4 linked regions of the Homo sapiens genome follow. The protein of the gene in region 1 interacts with the protein of each later gene in a pairwise test. Each region holds a gene or a part of one and is shown in the gene's direction. Other genes may lie near its edges. The genes, in order: PCBD1, PSMA1, NTAQ1 and FXR2.

Region 1 (7,834 bases):
GCTGTCTCAGACCGACACGCCAGCCCACACCTGGCTTCCAACAATTTGTTAAAACTGAACTGATTTCTTTCTTCTTACCCACTTTAATGGAGGCTGCCCCTTCCTCCAAGCACTGCCCAAGTGAGCCAGACTGCACATCCTGCCTCTCCTTGGAGGGACCTGCCCCCTTGGAATTCAGGATACTTGGTTGCCCTGTGAGCTCACCTCCCTGGTGAGCTCAAGAAAAGTGATGACTTTGTAGTGCATGCAGTCTTTTCTCATTGTTAAGTATGATAGCAAGGCTTTCTGCCTCCTGGATGGAAGGTGAATACTTCTTGCTGTCCTTAAGTCTTTCCTTCCACCGTCTCTCACCACCCATTCTCAACCTAACGCTACACATTTTAGGTTGCTTTTATAGCAACATTCCACTTTCAGGCACCAAATTTTGTTCCTGCCATTTGTTCCTATTGCTGCAGAACAAATCATCATGCTGAGTGGCTTAAAACAAAAATTATGATTTCTCATGCTTCCACGGGTTGACTGGTCTCACTTGGGGCCTCACGTGGGATTGAAGTCAGATGTCTCCTGGGGCTGAAGTCATCTGAAGGTTTGGCAGGTCTGAGCATCCAAGAGTCTCACTCACGTGGCTGGAGAATGATTAACAGTTCCCAGAGTTTCTTTGGCTTAGTCTTAGAAGTTATAGCTGGATGTGGTGGCTCACACCTGGAATCCCACACTTGGGAGGCCAAGGCCCAACATTTGAGCCCAAGAATTTGAGACCAGCCTGGCAACATAGAAATGTCCTGTCTCTGTAAAAAATTTAAAACATTATCCAGGCATGGTGACTACCTGGGGGAGCTGAGGCAGGAGGATCACTTGAGCCCAGGAGGTCAAGGCTGCAATGAGCTATGATTGCACCACTGCACTCCAGCCTGGGCGACAGAGCAAGACACTGTATCAAAACAAAGTCACATGGTGACATTTCTGCCATATTTGACTGGTCATACTGGGCCATCCCAGATTCAACATGGGTGAGAACTATGCAGGGTGTGAATATTGGGAGTCATGGTTCATTGGGGGCTATCTTTGGAGACTAACATCCTGCCTAACACTACATACCAAAAGGGACCTTTCACATTTAGGTCTTAAATCTATCTAACTATAAAGTTAACAAAAGAAAAGGGAGTATATTTTTGTAGCAGGGTGGGGAGAGGACTTATCAAATAAATTTTCAAATGCACAAAATTATAAGGCAGAGGGAAAAAAGATAAATCTTATTACACCAAAATATAAGATTTCTGCCCACAGACATCATGGATCTCATGCAAGAAGTCAGTATACAGATGGCAGAATGAGAGGAGATATTTGCAATATCAAAACTGACAAGCAATTAATGTCTAGATTTTATATAAACACCCACAAACCAACTAAAAAAAGAGAGCACTAAAAATTCTCAAAAATTGGCAAAGGATATTAAAAAGCAATTCACAAATAGTAACCCCCAAATGGTAACAAGCATATGAAGAGGTTCTCAAAATCATTAGTCATCAGAAAACAATGTAGAGTAAAACAATTGAAAGCGGCAGGAGGCAGACAATTTCCTAGGCAGATGGGGGTGGGTCCCCAGTGAAACCCCACCTTCAAGCCAAAAACAGCCTGGACTGCTGGTTTGGGATGAAACCCCTCAAACCAGGGTGAGAACTTCTGTTCCTGTTTGCCCACCCTTTCCTGATTGGTTCTTTCTGAATAATGCTTTTTAACCAATCAAATGTTGCCTTTTCTAATACTACCTACAGCCCGCCCCTCCCCAATCCTGTGCCTATAAAACCCCCTAGACTCAGCCACACTGAGATAGACAACCCCACCTTCTCAATCCCTCTCCACTGAGAGCTGTTTCATCGTCAATAAAATTCTCCATCCTCATCACCCTTCAACTGTCAGCATGACCTCATTCTTCTTGGATGCAGAACAAGAGCTCAGGACCCACCAAATGTGGGCACCCACAAAGGCTGTAACGCTGGCCCTCTACCCTCACTGGTGGAGGGCAGCTGCCCCACAGAACAGAAGCTGCAGCAGGGCCAAGCTGGTCCAGGAGCCACGGGCCAGAGTGGAGAAAGGGGCCGCCTGAGCTGCCAACATGCCGCTGTCCATCAGGCTGCAGATGGTGGAGATAAAAGAGCTATTTAGCACACTGTAACACCCCTCTCTGGGGCTTCAGGCACCCCTGCCTGGGTGCTGCCACAGTCTCCTTGGGGTGACACACCTGATCTGGCTGTGGGCCCCACACAGAGCCTGTTCCTGTGTCATGGCTCAGTGCAGCTGGCTGGACCCTGCATTCACTCGGTCACATGCTCCCTCCCGCCAGGGGCTGAGCATACAGTCGCAGTGGCCTTGTGAGCCATGGGCTGTAACACAAGCCAGATGGGGCCTGGCAAGCTGAGTAGATAAGGCACTCCCTGCTGCAACCTCAGCAAAGGGGTCAAGAAAAATCCTGCATCACAACAAGCTCTCATTTTATAGCTATTAGCCTGACAAAAAAATAAAAAGCTGGCTAATGGGAAGTGTGAGTATGTATGTGTAAGATGCATATGGAAATAGTACCCCCTCACACCATGCAGGAGAGAATGAGGACTGGTGTCCCCATCCTGGACATCATCTAGAACTATTTTGAGATACACACCCATGGGGGGAATTGCTGGATTTATAGGGTATGGATATACTTAAGTTGCCTAAGAAACTGCCCACAGCCCAGGGAGCAATTAGAGATGTTCACTGCAGCAGCATTGTTGTTTAACTCTGTGTACGTATGTGTTTGTGTGCCCACATGCTCACGGGCTTGGGAGGTGGTGGTAGCAGCAGAAAGTTGAAGGGAACCTGAGTGTCCATCACTGATAGAACAAGAAACCCATGGCAGATTCTCATTACAAAATACTAGGCTGCAGTTAAAAGCTACAGATTGAATATACATATAGCAACATGGGTAGATCTTAATTTTCCACTAAATACTCTGTTTTGTAAGAAACAGACTGAGAAATGTAATATATTTACATAATACCATTTACATAAATTTAAAAATACACATAGACGAAACAACACCACACATTTTGCAAGAACCTGTGCAAACAAAAATACACATTAACACATTAGAGAGGCTGCTATGGGCGGTGGTGGGGGGCGGGGAATAAAAGTGGAGCACAAGAATAAAAGTTAATAGAAAAATGTGAAATGTGAGAGGACTTTTCTAATCTGACTCTAAGACTTATTATAAAGCTATAATAATCAAGACAAGGTAGTGTTCTGTCATGACAGACAAACAGATCAATGGAACAGAAGAAAGGGCTCAGAAATAAACCCACATGTATACAGTCAATTGATATTTTACAAAGGTGCAAAGACAACTCAGTGGAGAAAGGAATAACTGAGTCGCCATGTGCAAAAGTGCATCTGGATCTATAACTTGAAGCATATAAAAATATTTACTCAAAGTGGATCACAGACTAAATGTAAAACCAAAAGCTATAAAACATAGGAGAAAACTTTTGATCTTGGGTTAGGCCAAGATTTCTATGTGTACAACATCAAAATAGAAATCCATAAAAGAAACATTTGATATATTGGATTTCATCAAAATTAAGAACGTTTGCTCTTTGAAAGGCACCATAAGATAATGCAAAGAAAATATTTGCAAATCACTGCCTGATCATGTCCTTATATCCAGAATAAAACACCCTCAAAACTCGATAAGAAGACAACCCAATTTCTTTTTTAATGGGCAGGAAATTCAAACATGCTATTCAATAAAAAAAACTTATCCTTAGCAAATAAGTACATGAAAAGACATTCAATACAATTACTAATCAAGGAAACTCAAAACCACAATGAGATACTGCTACACACCAATTAAAATTTAAAAGGCTGACTATATCAAGTGTTGGTGAGGACAGAGAACTGCAACCTTCATACACTGCTGCTAGGAATATAAAATGATACAACCATTTTGCAAAACAGTATGGCAGTTTCCTAATAAGTTATAAAAGTCCACCTACCACATGACCCAGGCATTCCATTCCTAAGTGTTTACTCAAGGAAAATTAAAACATACGTACTTTCGAAGATTTGTGCACCATATTCGCAGCAGCTTTATTTGTAATAGCCAAAAGGTAAACAACGCAAATGTCCAATAGTGAATCGCTAAACAAATTGTAGTCTATCTGTACAATGCAATACTATAAAATAAATTTTACTTAGCCATAAAAGGAAGAAACCATTGATATAGGCAACAACATGGCTGAACCCCAAAACAGTTATCCTGCCTAGTATATACTCTATGGTCCATTTACATAAAATTCTAGAAAATGCAAACTAATTTATAGTGACCTAAAGTACATCAGTGCTTGCCTGGCCAGGTGGTTTCGGGAGGAAGGGGTTACCAAAGGGCAAGGGAAAACTTGCAGGGATGATGATATGTTCATAATGTTGATCTCGGTGATGGTCTCACGAGGGAAACATTAAAATTTATCAAATTGTACACGTTGAATATGTGCAATTTATTGCATGTCAATTATATCCAAATAAGAGATTTTTATAAAGAAAAAAATAGGTATTCTGGCGCCCAGGGCCACCCAGCTGTAAGCGGCGGGGTGGGATTCCAACCCAGAAGCGGGCATTTGGAGCCCTCATGCTTCACCCTAGCTCCCTGAAACAAGCACGGAGGATGGCTCTGAGCAGCGAGGAAAGTGCTGGAAGCAAGCAGGCCGAGCGCGTCCCTGGCTGGGGACGTTAATCATTACCGGAGGGCGGCCCGAGCGCGGCCCCGCCCCGGGACGGCAGCCTGCGCGCCCGGCCGCCGCCTGCCCTCTCCGCTGGCCACCTGCTGCCGCCCGCGCCATGGTGAGTCCAGGGGTGCGCGGCCGCGATCGGGGCAGCGGGGCCGGGGCAGCCGCGGGCGAGGTGGGAGCGGGAAGGGGCGGGGGAAAGTCTTTTCGAGTCCCCTGCGGAGCCGCCGGGGTCCGAAAGTGGGGTCTCTGCCCGGCTCTCTGTCGCTGGCGGCGGGGAGGGGAAGCTGAAGCCCTGAGAGGGGCGGTGGCGGGTTCGAATCCCACCCAGTTGGGAGGCCAGGCCTGCCCTGACCCCGGCCAGTGCTTGTTCCGGGACCCTTCCGGGGGCGGGGCCTACGACCTTCCTGGGCCGGGGAAGACAGTCGTGGAGGAGTCCACGGATCTCGTCCCCTTGGTGGCCCGATTCTGCTTTATACTGGGGTGGGAGCGAGAGGGAGGCTGAGTTTGCGCGCTCGTGTGCGTGCCTGTCCGCTGCCCCTTCCCGCTGGCACTCTGGGTACGGGGTCTGCCTGGGACTCACGCTCTGCGCCGGTATGCTGGCCCCAGAGCCACTCCCCGCGCCGGCTTGAGGCCCGTGCCAGGCCACGGGGGCTTGGTGGCGCTGGAGCAGCCCTCCTCCCGTGAGCTTCCCCCACCCACCCCCGGGGCGGGGGCGGGGGCGGGGCCCTTGCTCTGCTGTAAGCTCGCGAGCTTCATCAGACCATTTCTGGTCCACAGGCCTTCGGAGCAGGCAAGACTGGGAGGGCCTTTTGATAGGAGAGGGACTTGGGGGAGGGAGGATGAGTGGGGCTGTTTGTGAGGGGCGCTGAGGTCCCAGAGATGCAGGCTTGGGAAATCGGTAACCACTCCCCACACCTCGCCAGAGGAGGCAAACGGGGCAGCGTCCCCCTCTCTGTCTCCAGAGCCGGCACCTGGAAGGTTTGTCAGTTCAGCCGCAGGCTGTGCGACCTGGGGGGTTCCAGAAGGCTCTACCGAGAAAGGGAAGCCTCCTAAGAGCTCACCTGGACTCACCCACCCCTTTAAGAGCCAAGGAAGTAAACAGTGGGCTCTGATGCTTTGGCTGACTTCTGGTTGTCTAGATACACGGACCAGGCGGTCAGCCACGGGGAGAAGGCCAGCTCTGGAGTAGAGACCTACCTACTGGGCAGATGATGCAAATCGCTGCTGCCATTCAATCCCTATAGTCATCCAGAGCCGAGGGGAAGAGAGGGGCCAAGCTACATCAGTCCAGAGAGAGCTCACGTTTTCAGGAGGGAAAACAGCAGGGAAAAAAGACGGACTTAGGAAAGCACTGCGATGCTTCAGCTACCCCAAATGCTACCAGGCCCATCACAAGCCTGCTTGCCTTAGGAAGTTTTTTTTTTGTAATGCAGATGACATTTGCTTTATAGCAGTGGAGTTTCCTAAAGTGTCCCATTGGCACCTCATGATGATCTGTGGAGGTGGAGGTTCTGCCAAGAGAGGTACAGCCACCTGGCTGGTAAATGGTGAAAGCGGGTCTCAAAACTCCTGCCAATCAACACATGGTGTCCAGTCTGCAGGCTGCCTCATAAAAGCTAAATCAACCTCCCTCACATTCCCTCCCCACCCCTAAGGGTATCTTTTCAATTCAGCACTCTATTTCTGCCCTGGGGTGGTGCTACTCTAGAAGCCTAGGTTCTGGGATCTGTTAAGCTCCTAGACCTGGATCCTCCTAGGATGAAACTGACCCTTGCTTCCTTGCTTTCTCTGAGGTTCCACTCATGGCCTGAATTGTGCCAATTTGGGCTGCCTTGAGGGCACTTCGCACATTAGGTAAATAGGATGGGGCACTAGGTTTGCCAGCTGCCTTTGGCCAAGTTCCTTCCACTTTGGCCTGAGCTTCCCAACCAGCCAGAAAAGCAGACGGAAAACCAGAGAAACCTAGCCCTGGCGGCTCAGGACCAGAGGCTGCCTGGGAGCATGACTGAGGACCTACTAGAGGTAGTGCCAACGGCGGTCAGCTGCAGTGTGGCTAAGAATGGGATGGACACTTATTTTAAATGTAGCTCCTTCGTCCAGCCCCAGCAATGCTGACACACAGACAACACTGCGCCATCACTGGCTAGGGGTGGGCGGGAAAGAACAGCAGACAAGTCGTTTCCCCTCTCTAGGCCTGTTTCCTCTTCAATACACGTGAAAGTTACGGTAGGGACGTGGGGTGCATATGATGAAGTACATAATAGGAAAAGGAAGGGGGGAGAGTCATGGGTACTCTTCCTGAGAGGTTGTGGAGTAACATATTTGCATCTGGGATTTATTTTGCTTTTACGCCCTCACTGATGTAATAATCTCATGGAGGGAAGGTCCGTAAGGCTTTGAGGGCAGGGTGGGGGAAGAGTGCTTCTCTGTCCCCGTCATATGAATTACATTGCTTTTGTGATTTCCCTTGTGTGTGTGTGGAGTGTTAAAACCCAAGACCTGAGGGCCTATCGGCAGACGAGCCTGGACCCCACCTCCTGGGCAGGGTGCCACCCTTGAGGCCTCCCAGCCTATTGCTCAAAGACCTGCTGCCCTTTGGTCACCCACGTCCAAAGCAGCCAGTGGAAGCTAAGTTCCCCTAAAGGTTGGAGCCCCTCTGTTTTGACCTATAAAGAGAAATGCCCTTGGGCCTCTGTTTTTTTCCCTCTTCTAGGCTGGCAAAGCACACAGGCTGAGCGCTGAGGAGAGGGACCAGCTGCTGCCAAACCTGAGGGCTGTGGGGTGGAATGAGCTGGAAGGCCGTGATGCCATCTTCAAGCAGTTTCATTTCAAAGACTTCAACAGGGTATGGCACCAGGGTGGGACAGAGTTTTCTGAGACGGGCTGATGGGGTCACCTTACAAAGCATGTTCTCTCCCTTCACGTCTTGTTAGCCAAGACTCTCAGACACCACACTCATCCAGTTATTTGGGCACTGTGCCAGTGGGGAAATTAATTTTCCTGTCTAACTCAGAAAGTATCATCTTTGGGGATTGGAGAGCCATAGGAGGATGTGTCTTGGGCTCTCCCTTCCTGGA
Region 2 (7,021 bases), on another chromosome or scaffold:
ACAATGTATATCGTTTGAGACCCTGTTATGTCTAAGAAGAACGTGATACTTTTGTCTGGTTTCTAAGGACAAGCTGAACCACACTTGTTTTCTTTGTGCTTGTTTTCTTCAATACATCAGTATTTATTAGACATTTATTTTTTGCAATGCTCAATACTGGATACTGCAGGGTATACATAAGTGACTCAGACATGGATCTTGTCTTAAGGGAACTTGAAGGCAAGTTTATCTATAAACTCAAATGTAGTTTATCTATAATATAACAGAAAAATTTCTGTGAGAGTCTAGAAGAGACAGATTATTTATGGTTAAAAGGCAATACATAAATGAAGAGATAGGGCTTTGAAATTGCACATATTGAGTTCTCACCTTCACCACTTAGTATCTGAGATTTGGCTAAATACCTAAACACTGAATTTTTTCCAGTGTTTTCTTTATCAAGGCTATTTTTAAATGTTATTTATTTATTTTTTTGAGATGGAGTCTCACTCTCACCCAGGCTGGAGTGCAGTGGTGTGATCTCAGCTCACTGCAACCTCTACCTCCCAGGTTCAAGCGATTCTCCTGCCTCAGCCTCCCGAGTAGCTGGGATTACAGGCACCCGCCACCACGCCTGGCTAATTTTTGTATTTTTAGTAGAGACGGGGTTTCGCCATGTTGGCCAGGCTAGTCTTGAACTCCTGACCTCAGGTAATCTGCCCACCTCAGCCTCCCAAAGTGCTGGGATTATAGGTGTGAGCCACTGCACCCAGCCTATTTTTAAATATTTTAAATTGCCTACTGTAAACCACTAACACAGAGCCTTTCAGGTATTATGTGAGTATGTGTGTTGTGGATGGCAGGTAGTTAGCTAAAACTAATCTTGTAAATTTGTGATTTGATTAGGAAAGAAAGAATATAAATTATAAGGGTGGGCCTGGCACAGTGGCTCCTACCTATAATTCTAGCTCTTTGAGAAGCTTAAGGTCAAGAATTTGAGACCAGGGCAACATAGTGAATCCCCATCTCTACAAAAAATTTTAAAACTTAGCTGGGTGTGGTGGCACACACCTGTTGTCCTAGCTACTCAAAAGGCTGAGGTGGGAGGATTGCTTGAGCCTAGGATTTCAAGGTTGCAGTGAGCTATGATAGTGCCACTGTACTCTAGCGTAGGCAACAGAGTGAGACCCTATTCTTTTTTTTTTTTTTGAGACGGAGTCTCGCGCTGTCGCCCAGGCTAGAGTGCAGTGGTATGATCTCGGCTCACTGCAACCTCCGCCTCCAGAGTTCAAGGAATTCTTCTGCCTCAGCCTCCCGAGTAGCTGGGACTACAAGCATGTGCCACCACACCCGGCTAATTTTTGCATTTTTAGTAGAGACGAGGTTTCACCATATTGGCCAGGCTGGTCTAGAGCTCCTGACCTCGTGATCCACCTGCCTCGGCCTCCCAAAGTGCTGGGATTACAGGCGTGAGCCACAGCACCTAGCCGAGTGAGACCCTATTCTTAAAACAACAGCAGCAGCAAAAACAGTGTAAATAGTAATGCTATGGTTTAAGAATTTCAGGCTGAGCATGGTGTCTCATGCCTGTAATCCCAGCACTCTGGGAGGCTGAAGCGGGTGGATCACCTGAGGTCCGGAGTTCAAGACCAGCCTGGCCAACATGGTGAAACCCTGTCTCTACTAAAAATAAAAAAATTAGCTGAACGTGGTGGCAGGCACCTGTAATCCCAGCTACTTGGGAGGCTGAGGCAAGAGAATCGCTTGAACCCAGGAGGCAGAGGTTGCAGTGAGCTGAGATCATGCCATTGCACTCCAGCCTGGGCAACAAGAGCGAAACTCAGTATTAAAAAAAAAAAAAAAGAATTTCAATTTACTCAGCCAGTCCCTTGCTCTAAGTCAGCAATATAATGACAGCCTTAAGGGTTTCCACCTACTCTTCAAAATGGAAAATGTATTATATTATCAAACATTTTATTTAACCCAATCTATAAAATATTGCCATGCCAACACATAATCAATATAAAAACTTTATTAATGAGTTATTGCACGTTTTTAGGTACTAAGTCTTTGAAATTTGGTATGTTATTTTGTACTTGGTGTACATCTCAATTCAGTCTAGCTACTTTTCAAGAGCTCCATAGCCACATGTGATTATTGCCTGCCATATTGGGCAGTATACTTTTAGGCAGCATTGGGAAATGGACTTAAATATAAGTACTGAACAAATAGCTTGGTTCCTGTAGTCAACCATGTGATGATCAGATGTGACATACGCATATACTGGACAAAGCAACATTGAGAAAAAGGAGCATATCCATTTCTTGTTTATCTTATTTATAGGCATAAATTCTCTTCTCCCCAATGTTAACCTTGCTTGAATTTCATCAGATTTAACAGTGAGACTCAGCGGCTAGTGTCCAGTATCTCCTCTAGAGTGCTTCTTATGAATAGAAGTAACAGTGGCAGAAACACGTAAAGATCCCCCCTGCTGTGTTTTCCATTTCTTATATTTGCTCTTTTGGAGAAATGTTAGTCTGCTTTCAAGAAAAAAGGACAGAGTAGATAATCTTTTTGCTGGTTCGAGATCTAGAATTACGACAAGCTTGCTGACAGTGGGAAGGATAAGAGAAGAGAGGTTGCTGTTTTTCTTTTGTTCAGCCTTCTCTTCTCTGTTCCATAAGTGCTCTGATACAAAGATTTTCTAGAGCTAAAAAATGTTTCAGTCTTTTTTAAAAACCTTATGTGGCTCCAGAGTTTAGCACAAAAACGCACCCTTGCAGGCATGTCTTTCTTACCTTCTGTTTTTCTTATATGGATGTTATCCATGTAAACGCTTGGAAGAATTTGAAGTGAAATCAAACAATTTAGATTGGAATAGTTGTCTATAATTTGAAATTACTAAACTTTTTTTGTTTCTTTTTTAGTAATTTTATGCGTCAGGAGTGTTTGGATTCCAGATTTGTATTCGATAGACCACTGCCTGTGTCTCGTCTTGTATCTCTAATTGGAAGCAGTATCCTTTTTATGTTAGCATTTATGGATATGAACTTTGAAGGGTTTTGATACTTGTGTTAATTATTAGGAATATAATAATAATATGACATAGGTAAGATTGTGAAAACTTTAAAACAACAAATTGGATTGCTCTTTCATTAGCCTTTATAAGCAATTTATATTTGCTAGACACAAATAAGCCCAACTTCAGGAAAATCATCTAAGCATCTTTTTAGAGGGGATTTAAAGTTTCTTAATGGTTCTAGATGTCCCAAGAAATCCTAGACCCCTTGTATCCAAAACAAATCAGGTTTTAGATGGGAAGAAATTATTTTGCTGGCACTCTTTCTTAGGTTCGGTAGAAAGTCAAACATTTTATATTAGGCCAAAGAAATAGTGTCCTATTGCATTATTTCTCTGGTGGATTATGCAACAATTAAAGAATAAGCCAGAGACCTTTGTTAATAATGTATAATTTGAAAATAAAGACAGTACTTCATTCCTTGTTAAAACAAGCTCGTTAACCAGTCTAAGAGACCCAGATACCAACACAACGATATGGCCGGAGACCATATGGTGTTGGTCTCCTTATTGCTGGTTATGATGTAAGTTCATTGAATATTGTTATATGTTAATGATTTTTTTTAATTAACTAGAAATTTTTATAATTTTTAGTTCAACCAAAGTAAATAATTATGTGGTGTATTTATTTCTATTTGTAGGATATGGGCCCTCACATTTTCCAAACCTGTCCATCTGCTAACTATTTTGACTGCAGAGCCATGTCCATTGGAGCCCGTTCCCAATCAGCTCGTACTTACTTGGAGAGACATATGTCTGAATTTATGGAGTGTAAGTGACAGCCTTGCTTTTTTTTTTTTTTTTTTTTGCCTTTTCCAGTCTATATAGTAAATAAACATAGTATCCTAAATGCATAAAACTGTAAGTCTTATAGAAAGAATTTTTTTAAAAAAAATTATGCCCATGAAGAGTTTATTGTTTCTGTCACATATACTAATCTTAACTTCTGGTTACCACAGTAGTTTCAAGCACGAGTAGAACTTTTTCAAAATATAAATGTGTTCCCAACCTTGAAAATTCTTGATTCATTTGGTCAGAAGTGTGCCCTGTGGAGTGGAGAGTGGAGAACCACTGTACTACCTGCCAGTTGTAAGCTCTGTTCACTTTTAGTTTTCTGTGAGTCTTTTGTTATTTTAAGCCACACAGACATTTCTGCATTAGTAGTCCATAAACAAGAAATAAAAAGGCAGTGTAGTTGAGGGAGAAGAAGGTAAAAGAGGTAAGATGTTATGACAGGACAGGTTTTCAAGTGCTTTGCTTTGCATTGGAAGGAGGGTATCGGGTTTTACATTTCTCTTTGTCATCTTATCTGTTTTCTGGTGACAAAGCATTCTTTGGAGGAAATATTTGGGGTTTAGTGAATGCAGAGAAAAATAGTTTAATTGACATTACTCAAAGCAAACTTGTGGGATGACAATAGGTTTAACTTTGGGAAAAGAGGATTCCTTGGACAAATAAGCTTGGTAAATGCTGGCTTAAAGTTTAACATTGTAAATTATGGTAAATGGTTTGGGGTCCCCAAGGTTACCCCTAAATTTGGAGATATGCTAGGACTTAAAGCGCACAGCATATAGTTGTACTCCCAGGTAAGACTTTTAACAATAAAATAACAGTACATAGGTGGATCATTAAGGAAAAATACAGTCCAGAGGAATCTATGTGCAGGCTTCCTTATGCTCTTTCCTTCCCATAAGGAGTCACAGAGTACACTTGCAGCAATATGTATGTGATGTTTCTGCCCAGAGAAGCTCATTAGAAACTCAGTGTCCAAAGTTTGGTTCAGAACTGCTCATATCAGCACCCTCTGCCTAGCACATTTCAACCTGGATAGGAAATTCCTAAAGATTGCAATAAATCTATAGATAATTTTGGGGAGTACTGCTACTTTGATGATACAAAGCATCTGATCCATGAACATGGAATATCTTCATTTATTTAGGTATTTAATTCTTTTTTTTTTTTTCCTGAGACGGGGTTTCACTGTTTTTGCCCAGGCTGGAGTGCAATGGCGCGATCTCGGCTTATTGCAACCTCTGCCTCCCAGGTTCAAGCAATTCTCCTGCCTCAGCCTCCTGAGTAGCTGGGATTGCAGGCATGCGCCACCACGCCTGGCTAATTTTGTATTTTTAGTAGAGACGGGGTTTCTCCATGTTGGTCAGGCTGGTCTCAAACTCCCGACCTCAGGCGATCCGCCCAACTGGGCCTCCCAAAGTGCTGGGATTACAGGCGTGAGCCACCACACCCAACCAGGTATTTAATTCTTTCACTGATGTTTTGTAGTTTTCAGTGTACAAATCATATTTGTCTTAAAGTATTTTATTATTTTTGGTGCTGTTGTGAACAGAATTGTTTTCTTAATTTCATTGCATATTATTCATTGCAACTATATAGAAATACAGTTGATTTTTATATATCAATCTTATATCCTGCAATCTTGCTGAACTTGTTTATTAGTTCTAGTCATTTTTTTATAGATTCCTAAGATCATGTTGTCTGGGAATAGAGATAGTTTTACTTTCTCCTTTCTAACTGCCGTGGCTGGAACCTCTGGTACAATGATGAATATAAGTTGCATGAACAAACCTTCTTTTTTTTGTTCCTAAACTTAAGGGAAAAGGTTTTAGTCATTCACTGCTAAGATTGATGTTACCTGTCAGCTTTTTGTAGATGCCCTCTATCAGACTGAAGAGGTTCCTTTCAATTACTAGTTTGTTTTGTGTTTTTATTATGCAAACATTTTAGGTTTTATCACGTGCTTTTTATGCATCTCTTGGGGTGGTTATGCAGGTTTTCTCCCTTCCTTCAGTGTAACTGAAAATTACACTGACTTTCAGTTGTTAAACTAACTTATTCTTGGGATAAATCTCACTTGTATATGGTATATAATTTTTTTAATGTGTTGCCAGGTTCCGTTTGTAGTTTTTGTTGAGGGTTTTGTTTTGTTTTGTTTTGTTTTTGCATCTATATTGGGTCTGTAGTTTTATTTTCTTGTGATGTTTTTATTCTTGTTATCGGTAATACTGGCCACATAGAATAAGTTGGAGATTCCTTTTTACAATGAGCAAATATAAGGACTAGGATTCTACAGAACACATTCTACAAAACTTGGAGTTGTATAATTTATAGTCGGGATTTTGATTTGACCTAGCAAAAGAGAAGATCAAAATCGTAACAAAAATCATGAGTCCTCTCATTAAATAAAATAAGAATCAGCAATGTCATAGAATGCTATTAAAAGATTATATGACTAGCATTAAACTTGGCTGTTTTTACTGTGATAAATTTAGTGTGTAACTAAAAACCACAATTTGAGACTGTAGATTTGATAAATAACAGAAGCCTAGCATAACAATGAAATTAAGAAATAATTGTTAATTTATTACATATAGGTAATTTAAATGAACTAGTTAAACATGGTCTGCGTGCCTTAAGAGAGACGCTTCCTGCAGAACAGGACCTGACTACAAAGGTAAGTATTGTCTTTTCCAATTGTAGATATTAACGTTACAGTTTAAACCTTTATTGCATAAATGTAATGGAGTATATATGCAACATTCTGTAATTTGGGATATGATTGTCTTGGCAGATTCTTTTCCTTTAAGCTATTTGCTAAGTAATCCAATTTTATTTTTTAAACATTTCTTTTTGGTACAAAGCAGTAAAACCAGTAAATTTCATGCAAAATGTCCTTCATTATTTTCAGCAGATTGGCATATCTTGGTATTATTTAGTTAACAAAAATATATATATATTGAGCACCTACCATGTGCAGGCACTTTCTAAGCATTGAAAATACAGTAAACACAACAAATAACTTTTTCTTCATGGAACGTACATCCTAGTAGGGAAAGATAGACAGTATATACATAAGTACATTATATAGTATATTAGAAGAAGATAAATGCTATGTAAAAAATAAAAAAGCGTTAAAAGGAGAAAGAATGACCAATTGGATGTAGGTAGG
Region 3 (7,021 bases), on another chromosome or scaffold:
AGGGTTGATCATTTACACACTAATGCTTCTAGCAGCACTATGAGGTAGACCAAGCTTGTCTAACCTGCAGCCTATGGGCTGCATGTGGCCCAAGACAGCTTTAAATGCAGCCCAACACAAATTTGTAAACTTTCTTAAAACATTATGAAATTTTTTTGTGATTTTTTTTTTTTTTAGCTTATCAGCAATCGTTAGTGTTAGTGTATTTTATGTGTGGCCCAAGACAATTCTTCTTCCAGTGTGGCCCAGGGAAGCCAAAAGATTGGACACCCTGGAGTTAGATACTCCAGTTATCTCCATTTTATAAAAGAGCAGAGTGAGGTTGCCGAGGGGAGGGGCTGAGATTGGAACCAGGCGCTTACCTGCTCCTGCCTGCATTGCTCTCCTGCCTGCATTGCTCTCCTGCCTCTGATGTTCTCTGTTCTCCACAATATCCTGCAGCAGTTTACCTGGTTCCCATTCACTTCTCTGGGAACTTCTTGAGGGTGAGAACTTATCTTTTTCATCTTTGCATCTGCAGTTCAGCAGCACAGTCTTTCACATAGAATAGATAATGTGTGGTTCAAAAAAACTGATATGGGACTGGGCACAGTGGCTCACACCCATAATCCCAGCACTTTGGGAGGCAGAGGCAGGGAGATCACTTGAGGCCAGGAGTTCGAGACCAGCCTGGTCAACATGGTGAAACCCCATCTCTACTAAAAATACAAAAATTAGCTGGGTGTGGTGGCGCGCCTGTAATCCCAGCTACTCGGGAGGCTGAGGTGGGAAAATCACTCGAACCCCGGAGGTGGAGGTTGCAGTGAGCTGGGATTGTGCCACTGTGCTCCAGCCTGGGTGACAGAGAGAGACTCTGTCTCAAAACAACAACAACAACAAACCTGTAATATGAATTAGAAGATGTTAAGAGAGAAACAGAATTTGGATAAGGCGGAGATTCTGGCAGGGGGTGGGAGAAGATAAAAAATTGATTCGTGGGAAGAAAGCCTTTAGCTGGAGCTTGTGTGGTAGAAAGAGGTAGAGAAGGTTGCTGCAGATGGAGGGGAATGACATGAGCAGACCCATTGGGAGGCAGTGGTGGACTGTTTGGGGGCGTGGAGGATAGGATGTATCTGGGGAAGTCCAGAGAATAGGCATTCATTTTTGAATCTTTCTGTTTTGCTAAGACAGACTTAGAGCCAAAGGCAGCACTCAGGCTTTTAAAGGCACAGCATCCCTAGTCTTAAGTATTGTTCTTACCTCAGGATTTATACAGGGCTCAAGTAGAATGATATTTGAGAAAGAAAGTGCCTTTTAAACTCTAAGATATTGTAGAAATATAAGTTGGTATTACTAATGTTGCTAGGTTGCTTTGATTTCACAGTGCTGTTCTCTATGAGAGCGTTTTTCTTTGGAAGAACTCAGAGCACCACATTGCTCATGTCCCTTGATCACCTCCCTGAAATCCCTTTCAGCTCATCGCTGGTGTTGGGCAGTACCTTGAGTCTGAGAGTGAGGGTGAGAATTAACATCCACACTGTGACAGAGCTGTGTGGGAAAAGCTGTCTTTTTCTTTCTCCCTTAGTGGCTACAGATGAAAGCTTGGCTAACTTCTTTTTTTAAAAAATAGTTTTTCCTTTCTTTTAATTGCAAAAGTGGTTCCAAACTAGAAATTAAAGTCCTCCTTCTCCTCTCCAGGCTGACCCCCAGAAGCCTCCTTTGTTACTAGTTTGGAGCAGATCCTTGCAGACGTTTTCCTCTGCATTCACATGCATGCAAATGTACTTCTGAATGCGCACGTATGTCTTTATATACAGATAGCTTTTAACAAATAGCAGGTGGGGCCGGCACTGTGGCTCACACCTGTAATTCCAGGACTTTGGGAGGCTGAGGCGGGGGGATCACTTGAGGCCAGAAGTTGGAGACCAGCCTGGCCAACATGGTGAAACACCATCTCTACTAAAAATACAAAAATTAGCTGGGCGTGGTGGCGGGTGTCTGTAGTCCCAGCTACTCAGGAGGCTGAGGCAGGAGAATCGCTTGAACCCAGGAGGCGGAGGTTGCAGTGAGCTGAGATTATGCCACTGCACGCCAGCCTGGGTGATAGAGCAAGACTCTGTCTCAATTAAAAAAAATATGTGGGGCCAGGCACCGTGGCTCACACCTGTAATCCTAGCACTTTTGGAGACTGAGGCGGGTGGATCGCCTGAGGTCAGGGGTTCAAGACCAGCCTTGCCAGCATGATGAAACCCTATCTCTACTAAAAATACAAAAAATTAGCTGGGCATCGTGGTGCGCGCTTGTAATCCCAGCTACTCGGGAGGCTGAGGCAAGAGAATTGCTTGAACCCGGCAGGTGGAGGTTGCAGTGAGCTGAGATCATGCCACTGCACTCCAACCTGGGTGACGAGAGTAAGACTCCATCTCAAAAAAAAAAAAAAAAAAAAAGTTTCCTAGAGGTAAAATTGCAGTTTCAGAGGATGTGCATTTAATGACTATGAACATTTCCATTATTTAACCATTTCCCTATCTGTGGACATTTAGTCTGTTTTCATGTTTTCAGGGTGTTGTGTTTGCTTTATTCTATTTTGCTATTATAAGGAGGGCTGTAGCAGTCCTATATCCTTTTTAGTGATAAGGTATGTGTCTGAATACTGGGATTTCATCATTATGAAGTAACTTGGTTAACTTCAGCAACTTTTACTTTTAGGATTACCATGTTGTTTTGCTTCATGTTTCAAGTGGAGGACAGAACTTCATTTATGATCTCGATACTGTCTTGCCATTTCCCTGCCTCTTTGACACTTATGTAGAAGATGCCTTTAAGTCTGATGATGACATTCACCCACAGTTTAGGAGGTGAGGACATTCAAGATGGATTTACTTATTTTCTGAAGTAAGAATTTGACGATTCCACAGAGGTTCTTTTTTTTTTTGACAATTGTTTTGTAAAGATCTCGTCTGACATCACCATTGAGTTGATGTTTAAGAATGATGTATTTGCAACACAGGAGATTCAAAATGTTTTAAAGCTTTAAAAGTTATCTATCATATGAAAGGTTGTCATTCTTTTAAAATTTTGTGTGATGAGATCTCAGACATTTAATTTCAAGCGGGTTGGGGATTTTTCTTATATTCTTTTTGTTTTTGTGGGGATACCTCGTGCTGTCACCATTGAGAGGGCTGTGAGGGCAGCATCAGAAAATCATGCCCATTGCCCTTGATACACAAATCGAGTAAATCGAGGCAACCAGATATATTTTTGTGCCTTTGCCTTTCTGTTTCGGGGTTTGGTTGATCATTTCCTATGCTTCTCTAATAGGTAGTAAAGTTGCCTGTATTACTAACCATACAGAAATGCATGAGTAGTTTTGTGCATGTCATAGGAAATGAGTCGATATAAAAATGGAGTTAGAATTTCAAACATGACATCTCCCTAATGTGAGTGTATATTGATTTTTCTGCAGGAAATTTAGAGTGATCCGTGCAGATTCATATTTGAAGAACTTTGCTTCTGACCGATCTCACATGAAAGACTCCAGTGGGAATTGGAGAGAGCCTCCGCCGCCATATCCCTGCATTGAGACTGGAGGTGAGCCAAGATGCCTTCTCAGATGGGGGTTCTGATTGATCACATACACATCAGCATTTTTCCTTAACGGAGGACAAAAGTCAGGTTGTTCTTTGAATAAAACTCCATGAGTGAATCCCAGCACTTTGGGAGGCCGAGGTGGGCGGATCACGAGGTCAGGAGATAGACACCATCCTGGCTAACACGGTGAAACCCTGTCTCTACTAAAAATACAAAAAATTAGCCAGGTGTGGTGACAGGCACCTGTAGTCCCAGCTACTAGGGAGGCTGAGGCAGGAGAATGGTGCGAACCTGGGAGGCAGAGCTTGCAGTGAGCTGAGATCGGGCCACTGCATTCCAGCCTGGGTGACAGAGTGAGACTCCATCTCAAAAAAAAAAAAAAACAAAAAACAAAAAACAAAAAATTCCATGAATGATAAGGAGGTCATAGGAAATACTACTTCTGTGTGTGTATTAGATTCAGAAATGAAGGCACAGAGAATAGGACTGGAAGGCATAAGAACATGTGGGAGAGGAAGGGTGTTAAGGATCAGAACCAGGGCACCTGCAAACTGCTGGATTATTGGATGTAGCTACTGCGGGGACACTGAACATCAGGATACTCGCATGCTTGTGTCATTTAACAGCGGGACTAGTAGCACCTTGCCATGGTAGGGTTTTGTGCTGTGGTGAAAGAAATCCCCATTGCATCCTTATGATGTGTGAAATGTCACTTTGGCTATATAATAAAATCTGCATTAGAGGGAGGTGAGCGCTAGCAGGTTTTATTGTACCACTTGTCTCATTTATGTGCTTTTAGGCATCAATCCAGTTGATAATTTCCTGACATTTAAGAAGATAAAGGGTCCTTCACCCTATTACTATTGTTTGGCATTCATATGAGTTTGAAGTATTATTTACGTTTGTAAGTAATTCACAACATTCCCACTTAGGGGTGAGATCATCCCAACACCTGGATAATACAGTCTGTGTGAAAGTGCTCTGTGAGCTCTGCAGCATGTCAGAAAAATAGGGCAGTAGTGTTAGTACTTCAACAAGGGTCTGAGCGTGGTGGCTTATGCCTGTAATCCCAGCACTTTGGGAGGCTGAGGTGGGTGGACCACCTGAGGTCAGGAGTTCGAGACTAGCCTGACCAATGTGGTGAAACTCCGTCTCTACTAAAAATACAAAAATTAGCCGGGTGTGGTGGTGTGTGCCTGAAGTCCCAGCTCCTTGGGAGACTGAGACAGGAGAATTACTTGAACCGGGTAATTGCTTGAACCGGGAGGCAGAGGTTGCAGTGAGCCGAGATCGCACCACTGCACTCCAGCCTGAGTGACAAGAGCAAGATTCCATCTCAAAAAAAAAAAAAGAAAAAGAAAAAAATAGTTTAACGGAAGAAAGTAAAATATACATTTGGCATATTTGAGGGGACTGAACACTAAGAGAGGGTTCAAACTCTGATTTTTGAGGCTCTCTATGAAAAGCTCTCATAATTTAAAAAATTATATTGGAATTGCTTATCAGTACACAGAGCTGCTTCCTGGCCTCAGTGTGAGAACTGGGGAAGCTCCCTGGTAAGGAGAGGGCTCGAGGGGTCTGCCTTAGCATCTATGGCAACCTGCTCTACAGGGCCTGGTCTGGCCACAGTGTGCCTTTAGCAGCTACCTGTTTCCCCTTGAGATGTGAGCACCTAAGACAGAACCTAGTGCATCGCAGGCATTTAGTGAACCCCTTGTCAGCCCTGGTCCAACTGGGGCAATTCCTTTTGTTTTGATGACTACTAGTCATTGGATGCTGTTTTGTGCTGGGCTTTTGCCAGCCCAATTACTATATGGGCTGCCGAGGTGAGCACTGCCAGCCCAATTTTCTTTCTTTCTTTTTTTTTTGTTGAGACTCTTGTTGCCCAGGCTGGAGTGCAGTGGCACGATCCCAGCTCACTGCAACCTCCATCTCCTGAGTTCAAGCAATTTTCATGCCTCAGCCTCTGGATTAGTTGGGATTACAGGCATACACCATCACACCTGGCTAGTTTTTTTTTTTTTTTGAGACGGAGTCTCACTCTGTCACCCACGCTGGAGTGCAGTGGTGCGATGTCAGCTCACTGCAAGCTCCGCCTCCCGGGTTCATGCCATTCTCCTGCCTCAGCCTCCTGAGTAGCTGGGACTACAGGCGCCCGCCACCACACCCGGCTAATTTTTTTTTTGTATTTTTAGTAGAGATGGGGTCTTACCGTGTTAGCCAGGATGGTCTCGATCTCCTGACCTCGTGATCTGCCCGCCTCGGCCTCCCAAAGTGCTGGGATTACAGGCGTGAGCCACCGCGCCGGCCACACCTGGTTAGTTTTTATATTTTTAGTAGACATGAGGTTTTGCCATGTGGGCTAGGCTGGTCTTGAACTCTTGGCCTCAGGTGATCCTTCTGCCTTGGCCTCCCAAAGTGCTGGGATTACAGGGGTGAGCCACTGTGCCTGGCCCATATTAACCAAAAATTAGCCAGGCGTGGTGGTGCACGCCTGTAATCCCAGCTACTCAGGAGGCTGAGGCAGGAGAATTGCTTGAATCTGGGAGGTGGAGGTCGCAATGAGCCAAAATTGCACCACTGCACTCTAGCCTGGGTGACAGAGGGAGACTCTGTCTCAAAAAAAAGAAAACAGACTTTAAATTAATGCATGTTTTAGATACATGCATTATTGGGTATGTTGGATTTAGTTATGGAATTGACTCTTTTTTTTTTTTAATCAAGGTAGGGTCTCAGTATATTGCTCCTACCTTGGCCTCCCAAAATACTGAGATTATAGGCATGAGCCACCACGCTGGCCAGGATTAACTCCTTTTTTTTTTTTTTTTTTTTTTTTTTTGAGACGGAGTCTTGCTCTATTGCCCAGGCTGGAGTGCAGTGGCACAATCTTGGCTTGCTACAACCTCTGCCTCCTGGATTCAAGCGATTCTCCTGCCTCAGCCTCCCAAGTAGCTTGGATTCTAGGCACCCACTACCACACCTGGCTAGTTTTTGTATTTTTAGTAGAGACGGGGTTTCACCACGTTGGCCAGGCTGGTCTCGAACTCCTGACCTCAAGTGATCCACCCCTCTTAGCTTCCCAAAGTGCTGGGATTATAGGCGTGAGCCACCACGCCTGGCTGCTTTTCGTCTTTCTGAGTAAAGGTTGAGAGTAGCGTTCCTTTCTTCTTTTTTTTTTTTTTTTAGACAAAGCCTTGCTCTGTTGCCCAGGCTGGAGTGAAGTGGCGTGATCTTGGCTCATTACACCCTCCAACTCCCAGGTTCAAGCAATTCTCCTGTCTCAGCCTCCTAAGTAGCTGGAATTAGAGAGGTGTGCCACCATACCCAGCTAATTTTTGTATTTTTAGTAGAGATGGGGTTTCACCATGTTGGCCAGGCTGTTCTCTTAACTTCTGACCTCAAGTGATCTGCCCACCTCGGCCTCCCAAAGTGCTGGGATTACAGGTGTGAG
Region 4 (7,572 bases), on another chromosome or scaffold:
TGCTGGGATTACAGGCATGAGCCACCGCACCAGCCTTAGCATTTACATTATTATGATTTTTTTTTTTTTTTGAGATGGAGTTTCACCCTTAATGCCCAGGCTGGAGTGCAATGGCGCGATCTTGGCTCACTGCAACCTCTGCCTGCTAGGTTCAAGCAATTCTCCTGCTTCAGCCTCCCGAGTAGCTGGGATTACAGGCATGTGCCACCACACCTGGCTAATTTTGTATTTTTAGTAGAGATGGAGTTTCTCCATGTTGGTCAGGCTGGTCTTGAACTCCTGACCTCAGGTGATCTGCCCACCTCGGCCTCCCAAAATGCTGGGATTACAGGTGTGAGCCACCATGCCTGGCCTCATTATTATGATTATTATGATTATACGAATACACGTATGATCCATGTGGATAGTTACAATTCTTTTTCTTTCCTGTACCATTTTTGTTTTCCCTGGAATTAATAACTGCCTTGTCCTCTCTGTTTGCTTAGTTTCCTGTGTACTCTAATTTATCCCCAAATTCTCCCTTAATTAATCTCTTATAAGGATATACAAACACTTAGGGATTTCAATCTACGTCATTTTGAAGAACTTTCTCAAAAAGCTCTTAGACCTGCTCCAGTCCAGAGAGGCGATCTTGAGGCTGCGCAATTGGGATCTCCCTTCACCTTTATCCTGGGGATCCCCTTTGCCTCTCTCTTGTGTTGACGTCCTGTTTCCTGGAACCTGTGTTTCCTCTTTCTATGTTTACTCTTCTTATTTTGATGGAGCTTTTTGAGAAAGAGTACCGGGAGGTAAATTTGTTGGGAACTTAAAAGCCTGAAAATGTCTGTTCTATTACTGCACTTAATTGAGAGTGTGGGCCGGGCGCAGTGGCTCATGCCTATAATCCCAACACTTTGGGCAGCCGAGGTGGGTGACCCACCTGAGGTGAGGAGTTTGAGACCAGCCTGGCCAACGTGGTGAAACCCCGTCTTTACTAAAAATACAAAAAAAACAAAAACAAAAACAAAAACAAAAAAAACAAACCTAGCCAGCTGTGGCAGTGGGCACCTATAATCACAGCTACTCAGGAGGCTGAGGCAAGAGAATCACTGGAACCTGGGAGGCAGAGGTTGCAGTGAGCCGAGATCATACCACTGCACTCCAGTCTGAGTGGCAGAGTAAGACTCTATCTCAACAACAAAAAAATATTGAGAGTGTGGCTAGGTATAGGAAACGAGGTTGGAAATAATTTTTTTTTTTGAGACAGAATCTTTCTCTGTCACCCAGGCTGTATGTAGTGCAGTGGTGTGATCTCGGCTCACTGCAACTTCAGCCTCCCAAGTTCAAGAGATTCTCCTCCCTCAGCTTCCTGAGTAGTTGGGATTACAGGCACACGCTACCACGTGTGGCTAATTTTTATATTTTTAGTAGAGATGGGGTTTCACCATGTTGGCCAGGCTGGTCTCAAACTCCTGACCTCAGATGATCCACCCACCTCGGCATCCCAAAGTGCTGGGATTACAGGCGTGAGCCGCCGCACCCAGCTAATTTTTGTAGTTTTGGTAGAGAAAGGGTTTCGCCATGTTGCCCAGGCTGCTCCTGAACGCCCGAGCTCAAGTGATCTGCCTGCTTCAGCCTCGCAAAGTGCCAGGATTACAGGCATGAGCCACCACACCTGGCCTTGGAAAATTTTGTTGAATAATTATTACTATTGATTTTAGATGATTTTATCCTTTCCAGATAATTATTTCTGTTATCACTTTCTGGAATTCTGGTTATTCAGATGTTGTATCCCATGGACTAATCCTTTAATTTTCTTATACTTTATTTTCCTTTCTTCTATCGCCTTTATTTATTTTTGTTTTTTATTTTAATTTTTTGAGATGGAGTCTCGCTCTGTCACCCAGGCTGGAGTGCAGTGGCACAATCTTGGCTCACTGCAACCTCTGCCTCCTGGGTGCAAGCGATTCTCCTGCCTCAGTCTCCCGAGTAGCTGGGACTACAAGCGCGTGCCACCATGCCCAGCTAATTTTTGTATTTTTAGTAGAGATGGAATTTCACCAGACTGGTCTTGAACTCCTGACCTCAGGTGACCTCAGGTGATCCACCCGCCTCAGCCTCCCAAAGTGCTGGGATTACAGGCATGAGCCCTGTGCCTGGCCATGGTTGCAATATTAATAATTATTATAAATATTAATAATTTTTCCAGTGTCTTTCTTCTGCCATCACACTATGAAGTCAGAGACTTCCAAGTCTGTTTGTCTCCACCATTAAATACAAAAATTTAAAAATTAGCCAGATGTGGTGGCTAAGCTCAAAGGGCAAAAAAAAAATAAAAGTAAATTCATCACCTTATTTTCTAAACCTTTATCTCCTATGTTATCTCTTCCATGATTGGCATTACCATTTACTCTAATCCAAGAAGTGGATGGAACATAGGACAACTCCCAGAATGTGAAGTTTTCCTGCTACTACCCTTATTTCATGACAGTTTTTCCTATTTTGAATTTCCCCAGCATTATTTATTATTATTATTACTATTTTTTGAGACAGAGTGTCGCTCTTTTTGCCCAGGCTGGAGTGCAATGGCACAATCTGGGCTCACTGCAACCTCTGCCTCCCAGGTTCAAGCAATTCTCTTGCCTCAGCCTCCCAAGTAGCTGGGTTTACAGGCATGCACCACCATGCCCAGCTAATTTTTGTATTTTTAGTAGAGATGGGGTTTCACCATGTTGGCCAGGCTGGTCTTGAACTCCTGACCTTGTGATCCACCCATCTTGGCCTCCCAAAGTGCTGGGATTACAGGCGTGAGCCACCGCGCCGGGCCACTATTATTATTATTTGTTGTTGTTGTTGTTGAGATGGAGTCTCGCTCTGTCGCCCCAGCTGGAGTGCAGTGGCACGATCTCCGCTCACTGCAACCTCCGCCTCCTGGGTTCACGCCATTCTCCTGCCTCAGCCTCCCGAGTAGCTGGGACTACAGGCGCCCGCCACCACGCCCAGCTAATTTTTTTTTTTTTTTTTTTTTTTTGTATTTTTAGTTGAGATGGGGTTTCACCGTGTTAGCCAGGATGGTCTCGATCTCCTGACCTCGTGATCCGCCCGTCTCGGCCTCCCAAAGTGTTGGGATTATAGGCATGAGCCACCGCGCCCTGCCATTATTATTATTTTTAAAGAAGAAATTTCACTCATTGCCCAGGCTGGAGTGTGGTGGCATGATATCCACTCACTGCAACCTCCACCTTCCTAGGTTCAAGCGATTCTCCTGCCTCAGCCTCCTGAGTAGCTGGGACTCCTTCCGAGTAGCTGGAACTACCACGGCTAATTTTTTGTATTTTAGTAGAGACGAGGTTTCACCATGTTGGCCAGAATGGTCTCCATCTCCTGACCTCGTGATCCGCCCGCCCGTGATCTCGGCCTCCCAAAGTGCTGGGATTACAGGCCTGAGCCACCGCGCCCGTCCTAATTTTTGTATTTTTAGTAGAAACAGGGTTTCGCCCTGTTGAGGCTGGTGTCAAACTTTTGGGCTCAAGTGATCCACCGCCTGAGCCTCCTAAAGTGCTGGGATTACAGGAGTGAGCCACAGCGCCCGTCTGAAACTATTCTTAAAGCTTTCTTTCTATTCTTTCTTTCTTTTTTTTTTTTTTTTGAGACTGAGTCTTGCTCTGTCGCCCAGGCTGGAGTGCAATGGTGCGATCTTGGCTCACTGCAACTTCTGCCTCCCAGGTTCAAGGTAGTCTCCTGCCTCAGCCTCCCGAGTATCTGGGATTACAGGCGCGTGTCACCACGCCCGGCTAATTTTTGTATTTTATTAGATGCGGGGTGGGGGGGGGGGTGGGTTTCACCATTTTGGCCACGCTGGTCTCGAACCCCTGACCTCAGGTGATCCGAGGACCTCAGGTGATCCACCTGCCTCGGCCTCCCAGAGCGCTGGGATTACAGGCGTGAGCCACCGCGCCCGGCCAAAACTTTCATTGTATCACAATCTCTTCAAGGTAAGAGCCATGACTGTTAAATCTACTACAGTAGAGAGTTACAGATTCTTAAAATATCGGCGATGCATACGCGAAGAGGGTAAAGCTCAGCGCGTGCGCACCAAGCACCTTTTTCCTTGCGGCGACTCCTCTTCTTTTTTTTTTCTTTTTGGAGCGTGCGCACCAAGAAAGACAAAGGTGGGGAAAGTGACCAAGCAGTCGTTCAGGCGCATGCCCATCCCTAACTTGTCCAAGCCCGGTGGGGCCAGCGGCGGCGGAGTGGGTGTGGCCTGAGCGCTGTGTGACTGTGCGGACGCCGCCCAATCGGACTGAGCGAGCCCGGCCCCTCCCTCCCCCTGATTGGTTGGTTCTCAGTGTTGTGGGGCGGGGAAAGGAAGAGACGGGGTGGCTGGGCGGTGGAGCGGTGAAGAAAGAAGGCTAATCTTGTTCTGCGCAAGCGCTAGCAAGCGACCAGGAGGGGGAGTGAGAGAGTGAAAGGGAATGTGGAAGCCCCGATGCGCTAGCTGGCGCTAGCTGGGGCTCTAACCTTGACGCCTGCGCGGTGGCCCTCGGGGCCCCGCGCGCAGCGGGCGGGTGCCCGGTGCGCCTGCGCAGTAGGCGGCGGTGGCAGGGGGAGGTGGAGGCTGTGGAGCGGCAGCGGCAGCAGCGGGTCCCGGGACTGAGGCAGCAGCGGGGGCGGCGGCGGGCGGAAGCTGAGGTGACGAAGGCAGCGGCGGCGGCGGCCGTTTCCCTCACGGTGGCGGAGACCAAGGCGGCGGCGGCGGACGGGGAGCGGCCCGGCCCCGGCCCCCTGCTCGTTGGCTGTGGCAGGGCCGCCGTGGGGCCGGCCCGGCTCCCGCCCCCCGCGGCTCCCCCTCCGGCTCCTCCTCCGGGGAGACGCCGGGGGCCTGGCCCGGCCCGCACTCAGACTGCTGCTGCAGCCGCCGCCGGGGGAGTCGGAGGCGGTGGCGGCGCCATGGGCGGCCTGGCCTCTGGGGGGGATGTGGAGCCGGGACTGCCCGTCGAGGTGCGCGGCTCCAACGGGGCCTTCTACAAGGTGAGACGGCGCGCCGACTGGGGACGCCGGTCCTTAGCCCCCTCCCCTGGCCGGAGCAGGAACGCGTGGGGCGGGATCGAGCTTCTGGAGCTGAGTCCTGGCCCTTAGAATCTTGGACCCTTGCTCCAACCCGCAGCCTTCCCTGGGAGACCGCTTAGAGTGAACCCTGTTCCTCTTATTTTTGACCCCTCTAAGGCACCTGCACCTGCTTCTACCCCCATCTCCGGGAGAATGAACTTCAGGCCATTATTGTCCCTGGCTTGGCGCTCCCCGCTCCGCAGGAGAGACCCCTTTACCCAGCTTCTAATTGACTGTGTCCGTTGTCTGGTGGAAGACATACCTTAGACCTTAATCACATCTTCCCCACGATCCAAGCACATGGAGAATTGTCTTTCTTCCACACGGTCCCTTTGGGAAGGCCCTCTGTCCCGTAAAAGATCCTTTCATCTTCCTCAGAGAGGCCTCTGCCTACTGGCTCTGGAACACTCACCCCACTTTCATCTTATATTCCGGTTCCCAAGCCAAGGAGAAATGGTCAGATCCATTTACGACGTTTGGCATCTTTGACCTCAGGAACCCTGGGTTGGATCAGTCAAGTTGCTTCCCAGCCAGCCATAAGGTGGCATCTTTCGCAAGTCTCTCTCCCCACCACACCTTGATCTCAAGACCCACTGCTCTACCATTCTACTCAGGAATGGATTTGAGGTCTCACTTAGACCTCAGATACCTTCAGGTCATTCATATAGTTTCTTCGTCTTGAGGCATGTAAGCTTCATAGTCATAATCTCTAAAAGGATCTCTGAAAGGAAGCTTATGAGGTTCCCTTCTGTTTATCTTAAGATTTCCACTTCTTGAAGACTCTTGGCCAACTATCCCAGTTCGGGAATCTGACAACCTTTTTTGGAAGACGGGATCATCTTTCAAAGACCCTTCCTTATTTCACCTCCCCCTTTGCCCAGGATTTGGTTCCTTAGAACTCCTTATAATACCACCTTCCTTATCTGCTCTGAATCTATTTTCTAGGACATTTTTTTCCCATTTAGATTAAGCCAGAGAGAGCCCTTTCTTGCCTCCCAAGAGTTTTTCTTTGTGTGACTGTTGGTATTCTGAACCTCTTGGATTTGATGCCTGGAATTGTCCTAGAGACTCTCCTGATTTCTGTCTCATTCTTTGATTTCACCCTGGGGAGCTGGGGAAGAGATACCTTCCCATGGCATCACTTGTTAAGAGTGGATCCCCCTTCCCCCTTTCCTTCAGTTCCCCTCAGGCCTTTTTCCCCCACTGTAGTCCTCTCTAGTTTCTCATGCCCTTGGAAATGTCTTTCTTTGACTCCTTCTCTAAGTCATATTTTTCTATAACTGCAGAGGGTCTTGTAATTTCTCTTGGGTGGTTTCTGCCTGTACTTCAGTTGCTAAGTGCATTGTAGTCATTTTTTTTTTTTTTTTTTTTTTTTTTGAGATGGAGTCTCGCCCTGTTGCCCAGGCTTGGAGTGCAGTGGTGCGATCTTGGCTCACTGCAAGCTCCGCCTCCCTGGTTCGCGCCATTCTCCTGCCTCAGCCTCCCGAGTAGCTGGGACTACAGGTGCCCACCACCATGCCCGGCTATTTTTTTGTATTTTTAGTAGAGACGGGGTTTCACTGTGTTAGCCAGGATGGTCTCGATCTCCTGACCTAGTGATCCACCTGCTTCGGCCTCCCAAAGTGCTGGGATTACAGGCGTGAGCCACCGCGCCCGGCCATTGTAGTCATTTTTTACTCACTCTTCATACTTACCCATTTTTGCCTTACTTCCCTCATCAGATTTATTTCTCTGCGGTGACTGTGGGTACCCATGTCTAACTTACCTTCTCAATTCAAGTTTTTAGCTTTTTCTCCTAATATTTCTGTATTCCTGTGTAATCCCCAGGAATCACCTTATTCCCTGTCTAGCTGAAGGAAGCTCCCTGCTGATCTCTTTTTGTCATTTTGTGCATACTTGCCTAACTCTTGGGACTTTTTCTTCTAGCCTGCCTCCATAGCATTTCTGTTTTCTTTGGCAAAAGTCTCTAATTCCTTTCTGCTTTTGATAGAGCACATTTGTCTCTCATATCCTTTTCCCCAAACTTGCATTACCTTTGTTGAAATAGCTTCCTAAAGTGGCCCTCCCTGTTTACCTTGGTATCTTTTCCTTCATCTGGGTCCTTACCACCCCCAAATTCTGAGTTCCAAGAAAAGTGATTCTTAAGTTGAGTCCAAGATCAAGATATGATGTTTGCTTTGTTCTAGGAAGCGTAGGAGCCCTGCACAGCTGAGAAAGATTGGTATCCAGTTCAAATGAACTGTATGAGATGGCTGGGAAGGGACACGTTTTCTGTCCCACATATAAGTGTCCAGCAGAAAGTCTCTCTGAATCTTTTCCCTTTCTCCTGTGTGCTGTGGCAGTGATAGACTTGAATAGATGGGGACCAGGATACTGTGATTCAGAGAGTAGAGTTTGGGGTTGAGCTGAAAGCCAGGTAATGTGGTAATGTGGATCTGGGCAGGTTAGCATTTTCTGCCCTGTTCCTGAGTTAAAAACCACAAA

The links.
Region 2: the proteins of PCBD1 (region 1) and PSMA1 interact in binary tests that used the Homo sapiens proteins (3 or more experiments, as listed by UniProt).
Region 3: the proteins of PCBD1 (region 1) and NTAQ1 interact in binary tests that used the Homo sapiens proteins (3 or more experiments, as listed by UniProt).
Region 4: the proteins of PCBD1 (region 1) and FXR2 interact in binary tests that used the Homo sapiens proteins (3 or more experiments, as listed by UniProt).

The regions. Positions count from the first base shown.
Region 1 is NC_000010.11:70,885,566-70,893,399, reverse strand, and holds the start of PCBD1 (pterin-4-alpha-carbinolamine dehydratase), read left to right. Parts: upstream 1-4,834; 5' UTR 4,835-4,866; coding exon 4,867-4,869; intron 4,870-5,518; exon of another isoform or gene 5,519-5,547; intron 5,548-7,470; coding exon 7,471-7,602; intron 7,603-7,834. UniProt on the Homo sapiens protein: Involved in tetrahydrobiopterin biosynthesis. Seems to both prevent the formation of 7-pterins and accelerate the formation of quinonoid-BH2. Coactivator for HNF1A-dependent transcription.
Region 2 is NC_000011.10:14,510,377-14,517,397, reverse strand, and holds part of PSMA1 (proteasome subunit alpha type-1), read left to right. Parts: intron 1-2,906; coding exon 2,907-2,995; coding exon of another isoform or gene 2,996-3,045; exon of another isoform or gene 3,046-3,488; intron 3,489-3,510; coding exon 3,511-3,581; intron 3,582-3,698; coding exon 3,699-3,828; intron 3,829-6,446; coding exon 6,447-6,526; intron 6,527-7,021. UniProt on the Homo sapiens protein: Component of the 20S core proteasome complex involved in the proteolytic degradation of most intracellular proteins. This complex plays numerous essential roles within the cell by associating with different regulatory particles.
Region 3 is NC_000008.11:123,433,765-123,440,785, forward strand, and holds part of NTAQ1 (protein N-terminal glutamine amidohydrolase), read left to right. Parts: intron 1-1,677; exon of another isoform or gene 1,678-1,748; coding exon of another isoform or gene 1,749-1,778; intron 1,779-2,688; coding exon 2,689-2,837; intron 2,838-3,445; coding exon 3,446-3,570; intron 3,571-4,369; coding exon of another isoform or gene 4,370-4,452; exon of another isoform or gene 4,453-4,565; intron 4,566-7,021. UniProt on the Homo sapiens protein: Mediates the side-chain deamidation of N-terminal glutamine residues to glutamate, an important step in N-end rule pathway of protein degradation.
Region 4 is NC_000017.11:7,611,890-7,619,461, reverse strand, and holds the start of FXR2 (RNA-binding protein FXR2), read left to right. Parts: upstream 1-4,564; 5' UTR 4,565-4,929; coding exon 4,930-5,010; intron 5,011-5,350; exon of another isoform or gene 5,351-5,398; intron 5,399-7,572. UniProt on the Homo sapiens protein: mRNA-binding protein that acts as a regulator of mRNAs translation and/or stability, and which is required for adult hippocampal neurogenesis. Specifically binds to AU-rich elements (AREs) in the 3'-UTR of target mRNAs.